Linked DNA regions of Homo sapiens. The protein of the gene in region 3 purifies or fractionates together with the protein of the main gene of each other region. This does not show direct contact. Each region holds a gene or a part of one and is shown on either strand. Other genes may lie near its edges.

What was found.
Region 1: the proteins of TLR1 (region 3) and ALDH16A1 purify together in Homo sapiens (affinity purification with mass spectrometry; 2 studies listed by BioGRID and IntAct, with this or other methods). This does not show direct contact.
Region 2: the proteins of TLR1 (region 3) and DERA purify together in Homo sapiens (affinity purification with mass spectrometry; 2 studies listed by BioGRID and IntAct, with this or other methods). This does not show direct contact.

What each region holds. Positions count from the first base shown.
Region 1 is NC_000019.10:49,455,931-49,463,230, reverse strand, and holds part of ALDH16A1 (aldehyde dehydrogenase family 16 member A1), read right to left. Parts: intron 6,416-7,300; exon of another isoform or gene 6,308-6,415; coding exon of another isoform or gene 6,305-6,307; intron 4,746-6,304; coding exon 4,643-4,745; intron 4,272-4,642; coding exon 4,145-4,271; intron 3,562-4,144; coding exon 3,383-3,561; intron 2,410-3,382; coding exon 2,332-2,409; intron 1,613-2,331; coding exon 1,431-1,612; intron 1,348-1,430; coding exon 1,195-1,347; intron 662-1,194; coding exon 476-661; intron 1-475.
Region 2 is NC_000012.12:16,033,242-16,038,091, reverse strand, and holds the end of DERA (deoxyribose-phosphate aldolase), read right to left. Parts: intron 1,861-4,850; coding exon 1,711-1,860; intron 1,403-1,710; coding exon 1,346-1,402; 3' UTR 711-1,345; downstream 1-710. UniProt on the Homo sapiens protein: Catalyzes a reversible aldol reaction between acetaldehyde and D-glyceraldehyde 3-phosphate to generate 2-deoxy-D-ribose 5-phosphate. Participates in stress granule (SG) assembly.
Region 3 is NC_000004.12:38,801,645-38,808,780, forward strand, and holds the start of TLR1 (toll-like receptor 1 precursor), read right to left. Parts: upstream 3,148-7,136; 5' UTR 3,110-3,147; intron 2,739-3,109; 5' UTR 2,662-2,738; intron 1-2,661. UniProt on the Homo sapiens protein: Participates in the innate immune response to microbial agents. Specifically recognizes diacylated and triacylated lipopeptides. Cooperates with TLR2 to mediate the innate immune response to bacterial lipoproteins or lipopeptides.

The DNA.
Region 1 (7,300 bases), on a different chromosome or scaffold from region 3:
TCCTCCCTCAGACCCAGGAGTCTGGACCCCCAGCCTCTCCTCCCTCAGACCCAGGAGTCCAGGCCGCCAGCCCCTCCTCCCTCAGACCCAGGAGTCTGGACCCCCAGCCCCTCCTCCCTCAGACCCAGGAATCCGGGCCCCAGCCCCTCCTCCCTCAGACCCAGGAATCCGGGCCCCAGCACCTCCTCCCTCAGACCCAGGAGTCCAGGCCCAGCCCCTCCTCCCTCAGACCCAGGAGTCCAGGCCCCAGCCCCTCCTCCCTCAGACCCAGGAATCCAGGCCCCAGCACCTCCTCCCTCAGACCCAGGAGTCCAGGCCCAGCCCCTCCTCCTTCAGACCCAGGAGTCCAGGCTCCCAGCCCCTCCTTCCTCGGACCCAGTTGTCCACGCCCAGCTCCCTCCTCCCTTGGACCCAGGAGCTGGGTCTCCAGGCCCCTCCTCCCCTGACACCCTCAAGTCTCTACCCCCTGCCTCACCTGTGCACCCTGGCTCTGGGCCTCACGCACAAAGCGCTGGACCAGGTCACATGCGGCAGCCCCCCGGGCCCCCATGTCCACGGCCCCATCCAGCCCTCGGCCACTCCGAAGCCGCCCCATCCGCTCCTGCAGCCGTCTCATGGCTTCATCCCACACAGACTCCTGGATGAGGAGCCTGAGGCCACCCTGTGAGGAAAAGGGGCATCAGGAGATCACACCATTGCACTCTAGCAAGTTGGTGATCTGAAGAGTGAAGACAGAGGCTGGAAAACTAGGGACATGGACACTCAGATAAATCAACAGAGTCCTAAAGAACAGAGAGGCCGGATGCGGTGGCTCACACCTGCAGTCCCAGCACTTTGGGAGGCCGAGGTGGGCGGATCACCTGAGGTCAGGAGTTCGAGACCAGCCTGGCCAACATGGTGAAACCCCGTCTCTACTAAAAATACATAAATTAGCCAGGCATGGTGGTGCCCGCCTGTAATCCCAGCTACTCGGGAGGCTGAGGCAGCTACTCCCAGGCTGAACCTGGGAGGCAGAGGTTGCGGTGAGCCAAAATCGCGCCGCTGCACCCCAGCCTGGGCGACAAGAGTGAAACTCCGTCTCAAAATAAATAAAATAAAATAAAATAAAATGAACAGAGACTCGGGACCCCGAAGACTGGAGACAGACACCAACGGCCTCCAGGGTATGAGGAGACGGGAGCGCACGGGTCTCACCGGGCCGCGGTCGGACCAGGCGGCGTCCACGACACCCTCCACGGCCGAGTCTACGTCCGCCGTGTCCGTCAGCAGCAGCAGCGACTCCGTCCCCAGCGCCAGGCCCAGCTCCGCACACTCTCCCGCCAGGCTCCGTCGAAGGGCACGCCCTTCCTAGGGACCCCCCCCAGTTCAGCCGCAGGAGGAGCCTTGCGGCCCCCAGCCGCGTTCCGCCACGACCCCTGTCCCGAAGGTACCTCCGGGGCTCCGCAGAAGGCCACCTTCCGGATTCCAGGCTGGGAGGCCAGGATGGGCACCAGGGACGCAGGGCCACTGAGGACATTCAGGATTCCCGGGAAGGGGCCCAGCTCCCCCGCCAGCTGGGCCAGGAGGAGGGGCGCCGGGGAGGCCGGGGGCACGAGGGCCACCACGGTGCAGCCTGGGGAAGTGGGGCAGCTCAAAGGCCCAGGAGTCCAGGCCCAGCCCCTCCTCCCTCAGACCCAGGAATCTGGACCCCCAGCCCCTCCTCCCTCAGACCCAGGAGTCCAGACTCCAGCCCCTCCTCCCTCAGACTCAGGAGTCCAGGCCCCCAGCCCCTCCTCCCTCAGACCCCGGAGTCCAGGCCCAGCCCCTCCTCCCTCAGACCCAGGAGTCCAGACTCCAGCCCCTCCTCCCTCAGACCCAGGAGTCCAGACTCCAGCCCCTCCTCCCTCAGACCCAGGAGTCCAGGTCCCAGCCCCTCCTCCCTCAGACCCAGGAGTCCAGGTCCCAGCCCCTCCTCCCTCAGACCCAGGAGTCCAGACCCCAGCCCCTCCTCCCTCACACCCAGGAGTCCAGACCCCAGCCCCTCCTCCCTCAGACCCAGGAATCCAGACCCCAGCCCCTCCTCCCTCAGACCCAGGAGTCCAGACTCCAGCCCCTCCTCCCTCAGACTCAGGAGTCCAGACTCCAGCTCCTCCTCCCTCAGACTCAGGAGTCCAGACTCCAGCTCCTCCTCCCTCAGACCTAGGAGTTCAGACCCGCAGCCCCTCCTCCCACAGACTCCTTCCACAGAGTCCAGGCCTCCAGCCCCCTTGTCTCTCAGACTCTGGAGTTTGGGCCCCACGATCCCCTCCTTTCTCAGACCCAAGAGTCAGGACCCCCCAGGCCATCATTTACCCACAGCCAGGGCAGGGCAAATCCTCCACATCATCTCAAGGAAGGAGAATGTGGGTGGCAGGATGAGGCCAATTACTCCTGCAAGAAAAAAATGAGGCAAGAGGATCCCTTGAGGCTAGGTGTTTAAGTCCAGCCTGGGCCACATGGCAAGACCCCATGGCTACATTAGGAAAAAAAAAAAAAAATGGCCGGGTGTGGTGGCTCACGCCTGTAATCTCAGCACTTTGGGAGGTCGAGGTGGGCGGATCACCTGAGGTGGGAAGTTCGAGACCAGCCTGACCAACATGGAAAAACCCCATCTCCACTAAAAACACAAAATTAGCCAGGCGTGGTGGTGCATGCCTGTAGTCCCAGCTACTCGGGAGGCTGAGGCAGGAGAATCACTTGAACACGGGAGGCGGAGGTTCCAGTGAGCCGAGATCGCACCACTGCACTCCAGCCTGGGCAACAAAGAGCGAAACTCCATCTCAAAAAAAAAAAAAACAAAAACAAAAACTAGTCAGGTGTGGTGGTGCATGGTCGTAGTCCCAGTTACTTGGGAGGCTGAGGTGGGAGGATTTTGAGCCCAGGAGGTCGAGGTATCAGTGAGCTATAATTGCACCACTGTACTCCAGCCAGGGTGACAGAGAAAGACCCTGTCTGAAAAAGAAAAAAACAAAAACAAAAACAAAAGAAAAAGAATGAGGGGACCGGGCACGGTGGCTCATGCCTGTAATCCCAGCACTTTGGGATGCCAAGGCAGGTGAATCATCTGAGGTTAGGAGTTTGAGACCAGCCTGACCAACATGATGAGACCCCTCTTCTCTAATAAAAATATAACAATTAGCCAGGTGTGGTGGTGGGTGCCTGTAATTCCAGCTACTCAGGAGGCTGAGGCAGGAGAATCACTTGAACCCGGGAGGCGGAGGTTATAGTGAGCCAAGATTGCGCCACTGCACTCCGGCCTGGGCGACAAGAGCGAAACTCTGTCTAAAAGAAAAAGAATGAGGGGACTGGAGCTAGCACTGCTGAGTCATGTGGGAGGATAGGGCTAGGGACTCCAGGGTCTCACCCATGGGCTCCCAGCCTGCCAGTGCCTCCTCCTGGGTGGATGCCTGGATTGCATGGTAGTGGAGCAGCTGCTGGGCCAGCTGGACGTCCCCGTCTCGAACCTCTCGAACAGCCCGCCCAGTCACCAGGGATTCCAGGGTCCACAGCAGCCGCTGGTGCTTCTGGATCACCTCGGCCAGCCTGTCGAGAAAGCAAGAGGGTGCTCATTTTCCAACGGCCCTCAGCCTTGCAGAGTCCTGGGCTGCTCCTATATACCTGGACTACAATCCCCATGAGCCCCTGAGGCATCCCCACCATTTACCTGGGGCAGAGGGCAGTGAAGATTTATGAGAATTATAGTCATGGAAACACAAACCCTGAGGATGCTGTGTAAAGGTCTTGGCCGCCGGAAATCCCTGAAGCTTTTGGGAAATTGAGTCTTAGCTTCTAACCTCAATTGCGTTTTGGGAAATGGAATTTTTGTCTCTAGCTTCCCCGCAAGCGGCTAGGAAATGGATTTAGGGGCTTCACCAGCCCCAGTGAACTGAGCCCCAATGCACTCCAAGAATGTCCTGGGAAATAGAGGCTTTGTGGCTTCTAGTCCCAGTGAATAGTGGACAACGGATGCATGTTTCAGCCACGACTGCCTCCAGCACATACTGGGAATCTGAGCCTTAGCTGCAAATTAATTCAGTGGGATCTTGGGAAATAGCCTTTGTTCCCATGGTCTCGAGTGGATGCTGGGGTTCCCCGCCTCCCGGGGTCCACACCTCAGCTGCATCACCTGGTCAGGTGCTGGGCCCGGACGACGCCGGGGTGCGCACTCCAGCCCTTAAATGCCATCCTGGCTGCCTCCACGGCTGCAGCCACATCCTCGGCCTGTGCCTGCAGGCAACTGGCCAAGTTCTCTCCTGGGGAGAAAAGTGGGGGGACTCAGATGGGAGGAGTAGCCCATGTCATATCTGGAGGGGGCTGAGATTTTCGGAGCCTGGATCAGCCCAAGAGTGTAAAGCTGGTCCCCATTCTCTGCTGGGTCACGGCTATGATCACCTCCAGGGCAAGGAAGCTATTTTAACAGACAGCAGTCTCACAAAGCCTCCACAGAGACCCGGAACCATAATTAGGGTGACTGGTTTCAGAAGGAACCAGACATCGCAGCCCATCTCCCACCACCAGCTGTTTCCTGCCCTCAGGGCCCTAGGCAAGGGGAATGGGTGTTGGTGGGTAGGGCTAGAGGGCACAGATACCTCCCTTCCACTAATGACTGGGGGACATCTCGTACCTGTGATGGGATCCTGGCAAGGCACTGAATTTCTGTGTTCAGGCTTTAACCACTTCCCATTCACATAGTGGCCCAAGCACCGGTCCTGGGTGTCCAGCCAGGCCTGGGGGAGGTAGAGACAGTTTGGAAAGGGGTTCGGGAGGAGCTGGGGCAGTTCAACCCCTACCCAGAATCCTCTAGGAGGGGACGTCTGTCTCCCTCTGCCCCATCAGCTAATTCTTTTCCTCCTATTGCTTTAAAAAAAAAGTTTGTGGTAAAATAGAGCATTTCAAAGTGTATAGTTCAGCAGTTTAGTGGCATTCTGTGCATTTACAGTGTTGTGTAACCATCACCACTCTAGTTCTAGAACATTTTTTCATTTTTTTTTTTTGAGACTGAGTCTTGCTCTGTCACCCAGGCTGGAGTGCAGTGGCATGATCTCAGCTCACTGCAAGCTCCGCCTCCTGGGTTCACGCTATTCTCCCGCCTCAATCTCCTGAGTAGCTGGGACTACAGGCGCCCGCCACCACATGCGGCTAGTTTTGTTTTTGTATTTTTAGTAGAGACGGGGTTTCACCATGTTGGTCAGGCTGGTCTTGAACTCCTGACCTCAAGTGATCTGCACGCCTTGGCCTCCCAAAGTGCTGGGATTATGGATGTGTCAACATCTTTAATTCATTCAATTAGGGTCTCAACTGAGTCCTTGGGCTGGTGCCACAACAGTGGCACCTATTTGGAGTCCACTTTGGGAGGCCGAGGTGGTCTGAGCCTAGGCATTCAAGACCAGCCTGGGCAACATGGTGAAAGCTCATCTCTACAAAAAATACAAAAAGTTAGCCGGGTGTGGTGGTGAGTGCCTGTAGTCCCAGCTACCTGGGAGTCTGAGGTGGGAGGATCACTTGAGCCCAGGAGGTAGAGGCTGTAGTAAGCCAAGATCACGCCACTGCACTCCAGCCTGAGTAACAGAGCAAGGCTCTGTCTCAAAGAAAAAAAATTTTTTTACCACATCTCACTCACCACATCTCCTCCATATTTCTTTCTTTCTTTTTTTTTTTTTTGTTTGAGACAGAGTCTTGCTCTGTCACCCAGGCTGGAGTGCAGTGGCGCGATCTCTGCTCACTGCAAGGTCCGCCTCCTGGATTCACGCCATTCTCCTGCCTCAGGCTCCCGAGTAGCTGGGACTACATGCGCCTGCCACCACGCCTGGCTAATTTTTTTGTATTTTTAGTAGAGATGGGGTTTCACTGTGTTAGCCAGGATGGTCTTGATCTCCTGACCTCGTGATCCGCCCGCCTCGGCCTCCCAAAGTGCTGAGATTACAGGCGTGAGCCACTGCGCCCGGACTTCTCCTCCATATTTCTTTCTCATCCTGGTCACGTCTTCCCTGATGCTAAATCCAAAGCACACTGCTCACTTGCTCCTTCTACAGACTCCCCTAGCATCTCTGATGTCACATATTCCTGATTTTTCTCTTACTGGCCCTTCTTTCTTTTTTTTTTTTGAGATGGAGTCTTGCTCTTGTCTCCCAGGCTGGAGTGCAATGGTGCGATCTCAGCTCACTGCAACCTCCGCCTCCTGGGTTCACGTGATTCTCCTACCTCAGCCTCCCAAGTAGCTGGGATTACAGGCGGCCGCCACCATGCCCAGCTAATTTATATATTTCTAGTAGAGATGGGTTTTTACCATGTTGGCCAGGCTGGTCTCGAACTCCTGGCCTCAGGTGATCCACTCGCCTCGGCCTCCCAAAGTGCTGGGATTACAAGCATGAGCCACTGTGCCTGGCTTCTCCTTTCTCTTTAAAGCAAAAAAGTTACTTAGAAGTTCCAAACTCAAACGCCCACAGGGAGAGAGACATCTGTGAGAAAGTCAGGGATATTTGAACATGAACTGGGCATCAGATGACATTAAAGAATGATTGTTGGCCGGGCATGGTAGCTCACATCTGTAATCCCTGCACTTTCCCACGCTGAGACGGGAGGATTGCTTGAGCTGAGGAGTTTGAGACTAGTCTGGACCTACACAGCAAGACCCCATCTCTACAAAAATAAAAGTAAAAAATTTGCCAGTCATGATGATGCACACTTGTAGTCTCAGCTAGTCAGGAGGCTGGGGTGGGAGGATTGCTTGGGTCCAGGAGTTTCAGGCTGCAGTGAGCTATGAACGCTACTGAATGCTAGCCTGGGCGACAGAGTAAGATCCTGTCTCAAACAAACAAACAAAAAACAAAAAGAATGACTTAATGTTAAGTGTGGTAACAGACCATGGTAGTTTTGTAACAAAATGAGCCCTTATCTGTTAGAAGAAAGGATTCAAATATTTATAGGAAAATACTGTGACATCCAGGATTTGTTTAAATTACTCCAAAGAAAATACAGAAGGAAACAGCGCTGGGATAAATGTTGATGATGGTTGAGGCACAGTGATGGGTAAACAGGAGTTCAAAATAAATGCTAATTATTCTGTGCAAGTTGGAAAGCTTCCCCCCAAAAGAAAAACAAAATTCCAAAAGAATGTCCAGAGGGTTCCAGGAGGCCTGAGAAGAGGGCCTGGATGAGAAGAGGAGCTTAACGATTCATGGAAAAGACAGGAGCTATTGGTCCCAGATGACTTTTGTCAGGGAAGTTGAGCCAAATGTTGACACATTTTGGAATTTTATTTTCAAGAGGACCTCCCGGATGT
Region 2 (4,850 bases), on a different chromosome or scaffold from region 3:
AGGGAGAGTTCAGGCTAGAATTCAGCAGGTGAGAAGATGAAACCAAAACTGACTTCCAGTCCAGGTTTTTGCTTATGAGCAACTAGAGAGCCATTCAGGGAAGAAAAAGACTCTCCTGATGAAAATCACCATTCAAAGAAACACATTCTGTAACGTGGTAGAGGTGCTAGCAAGCAGAATCTCCGGAAGAGCGAGGCTGGGACAGACAGAGAGCAAAAAAGCCAGCCACCATGAGGCAGATTACCGTCCTCTCAGCTGATGGGGAGCTCTGTTTATGTACACCTGACTATGTGTACCGAGGGACAGGGAGACATGGGGGTGACTGCACGCACTTGGGAGCCAGCCTGTCTGCTTGGGCTTGATTTTTAACTCTGCTAATTTTGAGCAACCTTTGGCACGTTGCTTAAACTCTTTGTTCCTCATTCCCCTGTCTGTATAAAAGGATGTTTACATGAGTACTTACTGCTATAAGAAGCAAAACCCTTAACTGTATTTACCTTACTATTATGAGGATTAAATGAGAGTTAAATAAATTGATATATGTAAAGCTTATTACACAGCAAGTGCTGTTAATATCTACTGTTTTCCTCCATTCACTATACCAGAAAATTTGAAGTTTCAGAACACATACATAAGTTGCATTCATTAATAACATACTGGGGTGTTTTACAGATATATACCCAAGGAATCAACTAGAGAGATTCAGAGACTCACTGATCAAACCTCTTTTTATGTTTAATGGATTATTTTTTCATTATGTATTGTAACAATTTTTAAGTTTTTTAAAAAAATAAACTATAGGAACTTTATTATTTTAAAAATTTTAATGATATTCATCGTTGTATATGACAATGTCAGAAATTTCATTAGGACAACAATTAATAAAAGCGCCTATCCACGGCAAAAATGAAAGATGAGTTTTCACAGCAGGAAATTAGTGCTGAATCAGTGACTCCTGAAGTCGTTACAGCAGCGCTTGCGAGATGTTGCATTTTCCTCTGCTAGGGCACACTGCTTGGGCGGTTTAATATTGTTTTTTTCTCCCTTAGAATTTGATGTTATCAAAGCTACCATTAACATTTTACTTAAAGTTTTTAGGAGAAACTCTTCACAAAGTTAATAGTGCAGATCTTCTAGTAATTAAGATCATTTCAGATGTGCCTGAAATGAGTACCACATGTGGATGAGTTTGCTTTTTCCATTCCATTAAGTTCGGTAGAAATTTTAAAGAGAGGAATGCCAGTTACCTACTGCCCAATTTTTTAATTAAATAATTTTAGCAATTACGTAGAAAAATAATTTTTAAACATTGTCGTAAAGAACTTTTCTGGAACTGGTGACTGATTTAAGACATTGGAAGATCATGATAAGCTGCATATCTTCCAGTCACATGATGGTAAATCTGTGAGGAAAAGCAGAGTTTAATTAACAATCATTCTATAATTATACACATCAGTTAATAATTATACTATCAAATAATAATAAATAGTTTTAATGAACATTTCATTAGAAAGCCTCACTAGTATGTGCTTCAGCAGAATCTCCACCCTACTCACTTCTGATGGCGGTTTGCTTGGAAGAAAAGGTAGAGGATTGGGTAGGATGAGGTCAATCAGATGAGTTTTTATCTCCAGTTCTCAATTTGACTTTTCAATTCCTTTCTCAAAAAACACTTGTTAATTTATTCCAAAGACAGAGATGATTACTCACCTGCCTCTCAATGTCCGAGAGCAGAGTACTGGCACCTATTCGAAAGAGTTCTGGCTTCAGCCACTCATCTCCAAGCTCCTCCTTTACAAGAGAGAGCCAAGCAAGGGAATCCTTTGCACTGCGGATGCCTCCTGCTGGTTTAAACCCTATCTAAATGGGAAGGCAGAGAATAGAACAATCTTTATTGTTATTGGATTTCTTTTAAAAATAGTACTATGTTTATCAGAGTCTTGATTCTCTCTCTCCCTCTTTTGTTGAAAAAAAATCTTTTCACTTCATCCAGTGAAAGGGCTTAGATCAGTGACTCATGCTCATTCACACTACAAAACAACTTTTCCAAGATTTTTGGAAGAATGTCACTACTTCCAAACAGACACTAGTGAGGGTTAATAACCCTCATTAACATTTCACTTATTGGAAAGTCATAAACCTCCACCATCTAGACTATAGCTGTGAACCTGGAATAAACAAGGAAGGTGTCAATAAATAGGAAAACAGATCACAAAAGCAAAGCCCACTCATTCTACATTTCCACAAGTAAGCCTGTAGAGTCACTTCTCAGCCTTCATCTTGAGGTTCAAAAGACACGTGCATTTAAAATCAAAGGACAGAATCAGCAAGGCTGCAAGGTTACCCTAACCAAACTGGCAGCAAAAAAGCAAGGAAAGTTGACAGTTGTTTTAACCAATTTAACTGTGGGATTTTTTTTCTAAGTTGCAGGCACACACAGTTCTAAAAAGCTGGCAGACCAGTTACATAAGGGCAGTAGAAAAACACCGTGAGGGGCTCCTCATAGTCCAGTAGTCTTTAAGGTTGATCATAACACAGCTGAATTCAGCCAATATCTGATATTCGTAAATGATGTCCCTGGATCCATTAGGAAATGAAAGATATGTTCCATATACAATAAAACTCTGATTATCTGGATTTACATGTTTCAGGAACCTGACTATCCAGTAGAGTTGGGAATCTGTAGATGGTAGTGGTCAAAACAACACCTCAGAGCCTGAGTACTAAATCTCTCACGTTTTATCACTCAGGGCTATGACTGGTTGCACCAGCAGATGACTGCTAACAGAATGCTAGAGAAGGGAGACATTAAATGAATATATTCTATTATCAACCCAAGCAGGAAACCTTATAGTTTAATCCAAACTCCACCATTCCCTGGCCACACCACACCCAATCAATATTTAAGTCCTGACAATTCTACCTCCTTACCTTCCTTACCCCCTCACATGCACTCTTTCCACTGCACTCTCACTTGTTTCAGTTTAGACCCTTATCAATTCTCACAGGAAATATCAGTAAAAGTCTTTTAACTGGTTTCCCTGCCTCAATTACACAACGTCACACAACTAAGCAGTAGCAGTGCACGGATTCCAACCATATCTGCTATTACTCTGGAGCCCAAGCTGTAAGGTAGTAGGGGGTTAAGTAGGATGAGGTTATTTGTTGAGAATAAGCCAAAAAAATCAATTAGTTGATATTAGCATACATGTTAATCATAGGACCATTTTTGTCAATTAGGCAGTGCTTCTTACAGATTTCCTATACAGTTCAGTTTGTGTCAGCAAGTCTGTTTCCAGAGAGGTTCTAACATAAGTTTATCTTTTTTTTTTTTAAAGAGAATATGGAAGACATAAATCTGCAATGAAATCAGTTATGAAATATTAAACCTCTGCTTCTCAGGAGTGACACTAATCATGGTCTGGAAGCTAGCCTATCGCATTTTAAAACACCCTTAAATCAATGACGTAGAAACTTTATAGTCTAAGGGCTGCCCAAGCAACTTGTCAAGCAACCCGAAAGGCTGCACCTGATTTGCAAACACATACACAGAACCTATTTGTTTGAAATCGAATATGATTAAATGAATACAATTTGGCTTGTACCTGTCTTTTTCTTAATAAAACTAGGATGGACTTATTTATTACCGAGGAAAAGAATCAATACAATTAAAAAGAAAGGACTGAAAGACAGCAAAGTGTCCCTCCCTCTGTACTCTGGCCTGGAACACTGAGCACTTAAAAATTTCATTGACATTCTTTGCTTGTTGTCTAAGAGCTCTCCTGAGAAGGAACATACTCATTTTTCCATTCCTAGCATTTAACACAGGTTAACATGGCACATGGTTAACTACCCAATAAATGTTTGTTGAGAACAAAACAGGACTGGGTCCCCAATGGCAGGTCTGAACCCTGGCAATGGAACTTAATGCAAACAGATGCCTGAAGACTATGCCAGACCCAAAACCACCAGGGATGGGGGCCCAGGCATCTGTAAGTATGAAAAGCTTCACATTTGGTTTTGATATTCTTTGGCTAAGAATGAGAATCACAATCAAATGAGTGGTGGTAGTTTCAACTGAGGACCAAAGATAGATTTATCATTTTTACAGCTTATCTAAACAAAAACTCTTTTAACTTATTTGGATTGTTGCAGAAAGGATACCAGGTAGAGGTTATTCGAGTTGGGTCAGCTTTCTCATGTAGTTCACAATAGATATTTATCCTATTCGTAATTAAGATGTGAAGTTATTTTAAGTGAGAAAATTCTGGAAGGAGTTTATTTCCTCTCATAAAACAGTATATTAAAAAAAAGGTCACTATTCCAAAATAAACTGAAGCTACACTTACATATAAAGTCATCACATCCAATGGACAAAGGATTAAAGGTCTTTTTTGGGTTTCTATTTGGCACAAATCAAGAGACTGGATTTAAAAGATGCCTCTCAGGAAGGGAAAGTGTCATTAAACACACACACACACACACACACACACACACACACACACACACAACCTTGCTCTCCAATCATGTAAAAAAAAAAATCCTTTGAGATAATTTGCAGCTAAACAAGTAACTTGAGATGAAAAGGAAAATCCAAACTCATTTTTAAAAAAGCAACTCATACGCATTTTTCCTTTTAACTTCATATGTTTCAAAAAATATGTATCATTTTTCGAAAAGCTGACAAAAACTAGTATACACCCTCCTCAGCTTAACAGTCTTCCAAAGAGCACATCCAACTTCCATAAAACGCAAAAATTGATATTTAATTCAAGAGCTATATAACGTCTAGCTACCTTTTCCCTGCTGTTTCACAGCATTTCATTATTTTGTTTAATAAGTTCATCTCC
Region 3 (7,136 bases):
GTATTCAAAAGTGATCAGAGGCACACAGGACCCCGTGCATGAGTGCGAGAGCTTGGCTCGCAGAACCTACCACACGCAAGATGAAAGTTGTCCTTTTTCCCTTAACAACAGCTATCATCACAAAAATATATAAATTTATATAACTGCCTGCCCCCAAGTGTTAGAGTAGGTACTTAGGCAGACATGAGCAGGACAGGAGAGGGGCCCCCCAACCAGGAATATCAGGTGACCATCAGGTGATGATCAGGCAGTTGTTAAACAGTCTCTCTAAGCCGGGGGCCATGGCTCACGCCTGTAATTCCAGCACTTCGGGAGGCTGAGATAGGTGGATCACTTGAGGTCGGGAGTTTGAGACTAGTCTGGCCAGCATGGTGAAACCCTGTCTCTACTAAAAATACAAAAATTAGCCGGGCGTGATGGCAGGTGCCTGTAATCCCAGCTACTGGGGAAGCTGAGGCAGGAGAATTGCTTGAACCCAGGAGGCAGAGGTTGCAGTGAGCCAAGATCATGCCATTGCACTCCAGCCTGGGCAACAGGGCTAGACTCTGTCTCAAAAACAAACAAACAAAAACAAAAAAACAGTCTCTCTAGAATAATAATTGTTTGCAGCCAGCATCAGGGAAAGTCAGTCTCCTAATAGATAGAAAACACACCTGAAGCTGGTGGTTAGCAGACTCCTGACAAACTCTCAGGAGCTGGGCAAGCAGGCTTGAGCATGCATACCAAGAGGCAAAATGGCGGACTTCAACGGGTATGTGACCTTCCTCTAGGAAGACTTGTCTGGCAAGGGAAAAATGTCTCCAATGAGCATGTACACAACTTCAGTAAACACAGTGTGTGTGCAGCCCATCCCAAGGGCTGGCAGGCCACTGCACATGCAGACAGCCCACCCCAAGGGAAGAATCAGGGGAGAAGAGACGCAAGACTCCAGAAGCCTGCCAACAAATAAGCCCCAAGTAATAGGTTAAACTGGGCACTTGGATCTCTCAAGTTGCCCACTTGGCCCTCCTCCAAGTGTACTTTATTTCCTTTCGTTCCTGATCTAAAACTTCTTAATAAACTCTCTGTAAGGAATATGGCTGTGCTTTGGTCAAGGATAGGCCAAGGTAAACATCCAGAGTGACTCAGCGAGTTTAGAGCGCAGGCGTATAACTCACTTTTTATCATAGCCATGTAGACATAACATAGAGAAGCTTACCATAGCCATAACATAGGGAAGGTTCATCCCTTGGCTCTAAGCCACTATTGTCCGTAAATGGTATAATTGCCCTGCTGACGCTGTACAGGTGCATTGGCAGCCAGAGAAAGAGAGAGAGAGAGAGCCAAAGCTGTCCATCTTTGCAGATGGACTGAGGGGAGCCAGGACACAGCTCGGCTTGCTTGTACCCAGAGAGAGAAAGAGTTAAGCTGCTGACCCTGAGGGCAAGGGAGAGCCGGACGCACAGTTGTGTGTGGAAGCTGCCGAACTAAGCAGCCAGGACAAGGCGGACAGTCTGAGAGAACTACTGTAAGTAAGCTGCTAATGAGAGCTGTTGCTGAATAAAATCACCTTTCACCTGCCTACGGCCCCCTGAGTGTTCTTTCAGCTATCTGCTCATCCACCCCCTCCCCTCAGACCTCAGTATGGGCTGGAACCTGGCCCTGGGCGTGACACTCTCTCTCTTACTCTAAAACTTGCCTCGGTCTCTCACTCTGCCTTATGCCCCTCACACAAATTCTTTCCACTGAGGAGGCAAGAATTAAGTTTCTACGACCCATATGGATTCACCACTGCTAACGCAAGCATTTAATGAAAGCATAGCTTCAGTTTTATGTCGAGCTAAATTAATTGACTCAAATATCTTCTATTTGCCTAACCTCCATCTTGCCCTTTCATTTAAAGTCATTAATTTTAAGTACTCAGTTTATGAAACCATTCTTATTTCTATAATTAAGAAATCAAAATGTTATACACAGGAATAACTGATTTTTAATACTTCCAGGATCTTTGAATTTTATATACCAAACTTGCTAAATCCATGAAAATCAATGTCTCAGTTTCCTAGACCAAAGAATTTTTTGATCAACGTCTTAATGACCATGACTGAGCCTCATCTATTTTAGAACCTTTAAACTCTTTTACTATCCAAAAAATAAGCTGAGCAGAAAAGGATGCTTTAATTTGAAAGTGTAAAATGCCTCTAGGTGAGCTTCTGTGAATTTTCATTATTATGATAGGTTTAGCCTCACATTATATGATACAATGAATCAATACATTTAATTTGTCTTCTTTTGGAGACTTTGGAGGCATCAAATCAAGGCTTTGACTGGTCTTAATGGACAATACCCATACAATCTATCTGGCCCATTAAGTTTAGTCCTGTAAATATTTACTAAGGGCCTTCTCTGCACAAGACCAAATAGCTATTAACCAAAGGTTAAAAGAATCTGAGACAGTTCAAGAACTGTTCTGCTTTGCTTTCTATGCGGTTTTGTGAACTCTTGCTTTGTTATAAAACAAATTCACTTTCAAGTCTTTTGACCAAATTGGATGTAGCCTGGGAAACATTTTCAAAACCTGCAATTCTACCTCACGTCTAGCTCCCCAGAACAGTGTTAGTGGCCTGAGAAACAGAAGGACTAGCTAGTGGGAAGGCCCCAGAGAGAAAAACTGAAACAAACCTGGCCACAAAAACAGAAGAGCTGAACAGCAGCATTGCCTCCGGGAGTAACTGACTTATATCTCATTTTCTTTAACACTGAGAAGAGAATACAAATGGCGGGATTAGGTGAAGAGAAATGCTGTCAAAATCAACAACTAGCAGCTGCTCTGGAAGAAAACCAGAAGACGTGTGTGACCCAAATATTCATTTCCCAACTCAAAAATATTTCCTATAAGCAAATCACACACGAGGTGTTATTCCCAGAGGAGTGTGGGGACTTTCTCTGATTTAGGACTCAGAACTGATACACAAATGCCAGTACAAACTACACAGTAACTATATACATATCAGAAATATAACCCACTTAGAAAAACACCCAGGACTTACACAGATTTTTGAGACTTCTGTACTTAATAACTAGCTATACAATTATTTTCTTTTACAAAAGAAAAGAATGTGTTGCTTACCAAGACAACCTGCTTGTCTGTTCCATTTGGCAGTCTGTAAGAAATTCAAGCACTTCCTTGAATTTATTTCACTGTTAACCACATTTGGTGTTGAAAACAAAACAAAACAAAAAGGCTGTTTTATGCCACCTACCGAATTCCACTGGAATTACATTACATAGTTAAGAATAAACTTATTTTCTCTTATTCATATGTAGCATAGTCTGTGGGTTACCTGATAGGCCTGTATTAAAATAGAATCACGTTTCTATGGTTCCAAATTTCACTACAGTCAGTTTACTATTGTCTACACTGATGAAGTAAATGAGGTAATGTTAATAATCCACAGATCATAATTGGCTGAATTCAAAATGCTTACCGTGGTGGCTATGCTTGGCAGAAGTGTGCGTCTGGGTGTGTTTCGGCTGCTTTGTTTTTCCTCTTGCCTTTTCATCCATCCACTATTAAAAGTGGAAAGAGGGAGGGGTCGAGATTAAAGTTTTGCTGAAGCACACTCGTAAAGAGGGAAGATCATTCATGTGCTGGTTACAGGATGGATGTTAATCACGTCTTTTTTGACAAGTTGATTTTCAGAGAAAATTTGGTGCTGAATTTTTTTCCACTGATCTTTTCAAGCTTTCTTCAAAACATATTTTTGTAAACCCTAAGTGAAAAATATGCTAAGAAGAAAAGAGATTCTTAGCGTGTTTTTCACATAGGGTTTATAAAAATCCTGGGGTTTGTTGACAGCATGTTCAAGGAAGACATTCTGATAGCTCTACTCTTGCCTTTTCCAGTAATGACAACAACAAAATAACAACACAATAAATGGGCAAATAAAGCTATGGGATTCCAGCTGACTGCCTCTGAAGTTGATCTCAGCCTGCATGGTGTCCAGTCAAAACCGGATGTGGGGATGACAAAACTGCCTCCCTTCCTTCCCTCCACGGTTCTCTCCCGTAATCAGCTTTTCTACCACACAGCGAGCAAGGCCAACTTCCCTAAACTAAGAATGCTGAGATTCTTTTCGACTTATAATGTTCTGACTGTCTCTCTCTGTTTCCCCTTACCTCAGAATTTGTTTAATAGAGGAAATATGTTATGTCTACAGATATTTTCTGAAACTGAAAGAATGAAACCACCCACCTGCCATTTCCTCCCTGAGACCCATAACTGGACAGGAGGGAGGTGTCTTTGACTAAGAATTTAGTTCCTGGCTCCCAAAGGCATTGACTTTGTGAATCCAGGCTGAGGGAGCAATGCCCAGGGGAGGGAAGTGGGCAGGGCAGTAAGGGAAGCTTCTCAGCACTCTGAATTCCTGTTTTTCCCCACAGACTCATCCCCACTACTCCCAGTTGTGTACATGATTACAAGTGTGTGTGTCTCTGCCCACCCCTAGCCCATACCTGGGCATTTCTTTTTGGATTCAGGGCAGTAAAAATATGCTGTCAATTAGATGTAATCTGTAGTTAGTTGTGTTTTTTTTTAACAAAACCTTATTGATATATAATTCACAAACCATAAAAAATTTCACCTTCCATAAAAAATTTCACAAACGATAAAAAATACACCCGTTTAAAGTGTATAATTCAGGCCGGGCATGGTAGCTCATGCCTACAATCCCAACACTTTGGGAGGCTGAGGCAGGCAGATCACCTGAGGTCAGGAGTTTGAGACCAGCCTAGTAGAGAAGGCGAAACCCCGTCTCTACTAAAAATAAAAAAAATTAGCCGGACGTGGTGGCACATGCCTGTGATCTCAGCTACTTAGGAGGCTGAGGCAGGAGAATCGCCTGAACCCAAGAGGCGGAGGTTGCAGTGAGCCAAGATCACACCACTGCACTCTAGCCTGGGTGACAGAGCAAGACTCTATCTCAAAAAATAAATAAATAAATAAATAAATAAATAAATAAATAAATAAATAAAATAAAGTGTCTAATTCGGAGGCACCTACCTGCCTCTTTTTCCCCCTGCTGTCCAGTGGGTCACCACAGAACAAACACACACTTGTAATCATGTACACCCATCAATCAACAAACACACACTTCCCCTCTACCTCTACACCTCTACCTCTACCTACCTCTACCCCTACCCCTACCCCTACCCCTACCCCTACCCCTACCTCTACCTCTACCTCCACGGTCTCCCTCTGATGCCGAGCCGAAGCTGGACTGTACTGCTGCCATCTCGGCTCACTGCAACCTCCCTGCCTGATTCTCTGCCTCAGCCTGCGGAGTGCCTGCCATTGCAGGCGCACGCCGCCACGCCTGACTGGTTTTTGTATTTTTTTGGTGGAGACGGGGTTTCGCTGTGTTGGCTGGGCTGGTTTCCAGCTCCTAACCGCGAGTGATCCGCCAGCCTCGGCCTCCTGAGGTGCCGGGATTGCAGACGGAGTCTGGTTCACTCAGTGCTCAATGTTGCCCAGGCTGGAGTGCAGTGGCGTGATCTCGGCTCGCTGCAACCTCCACCTCCCAGCTGCCTGCCTTGGCCTCCCAAAGTGCCGAGATTGCAGCCTCTGCCCGGCCGCCACCCCGTCTGGGAAGTGAGGAGCGTCTCTGCCTGGCCGCCCATCGTCTGGGACGTGAGGAGCCCCTCTGCCTGGCTGCCCAGTCTGGAAAGTGAGGAGCATCTCTGCCTGGCCGCCATCCCATCTAGGAAGTGAGGAGCGCCTCTTCCCGGCCGCCATCCCATCTAGGAAGTGAGGAGCGTCTCTGCCCGGCCGCCCATCGTCTGAGATGTGGGGAGCACCTCTGCCCCGCCGCCCCGTCTGGGATGTGAGGAGCGCCTCTGCCCGGCCGCCCATCGTCTGAGATGTGGGGAGCGCCTCTGCCCTGCCACCCCATCTGGGATGTGAGGAGCGCCTCTACCCGGCCGCGACCCCGTCTGGGAGGTGAGGAGCGTCTCTGCCCGGCCGCGCCGTCTGAGAAGTGAGGAGACCCTCTGCCTGGCAACTGCCCTGTCTGAGAAGTGAGGAGCCCCTCCGCCAGGCAGCCACCCCGTCTGGGAAGTGAGGAGTGTCTCCGCCCGGCAGCCACCCCGTCCGGGAGGGAGGTGGGGGACAGCCCCCGCCAGGCCAGCCACCCCATCCGGGAGGGAGGTGGGGGGGTCAGTCCCCCGCCCGGCCAGCCGCCCCGTCCAGGAGGGAGGTGGGGGAGTCAGCCCCCGACCTGGCCAGCCACCCGGTCCGGGAGGTGAGGGGCGCCTCTGCCCAGCCGCCCCTACTGGGAAGTGAGGAGCCCCTCTGCCCGGCCAGCCGCCCCGTCCGGGAGGGAGATGGGGGGGTCAGCCCCCCACCCGGCCAGCCGCCCCGTCCAGGAGGGAGGTGGGGGAGTCAGCCCCCCACCCGGCCAGCCGCCCGGTCCGGGAGGTGAGGGGCGCCTCTGCCCGGCTGCTCCTACTGGGAAGTGAGGAGCCCCTCTGCCTGGCCACCTCCTCGTCTGGGAGGTGTACCCAACAGCTCATTGAGAACGGGCCATGATGACAATGGCGGTTTTGTGGAATAGAAAGGGAGGAAAGGTGGGGAAAAGATTGAGAAATCGGATGGTTGCCATGTGTGTGCAGAAAGAGGTAGGCATGGGAGACTTTTCATTTTGTTCTGTACTAAGAAAAATTCTTCTGCCTTGGGATCCTGTTGATCTGTGACCTTACCCCCAACCCAACCCTGTGCTCTCTGCAACATGTGCTGTGTCCACTCAGGGTTAAATGGATTAAGGGCGGTGCAAGATGTGCTTTGTTAAACAGATGCTTGAAGGCAGCATGCTCATTAAGAGTCATCACCAATCCCTAATCTCAAGTACCCAGGGACACAAACACTGCAGAAGGCTGCAGGGTCCTCTGCCTAGGAAAACCAGAGACCTTTGTTCACTTGTTTATCTGCTGACCTTCCCTCCACTATTGTCCTATGACCCTGCCAAATCCCCCTCTGCGAGAAACACCCAAGAATGATCAATAAAAATAAATAAATTAATTAATTTAAAAAAATGCATTCAGGGAATAACATGACAAGAATGTCAGCAGAAAACTAGAAACTATAAAAAAGGATCATATGG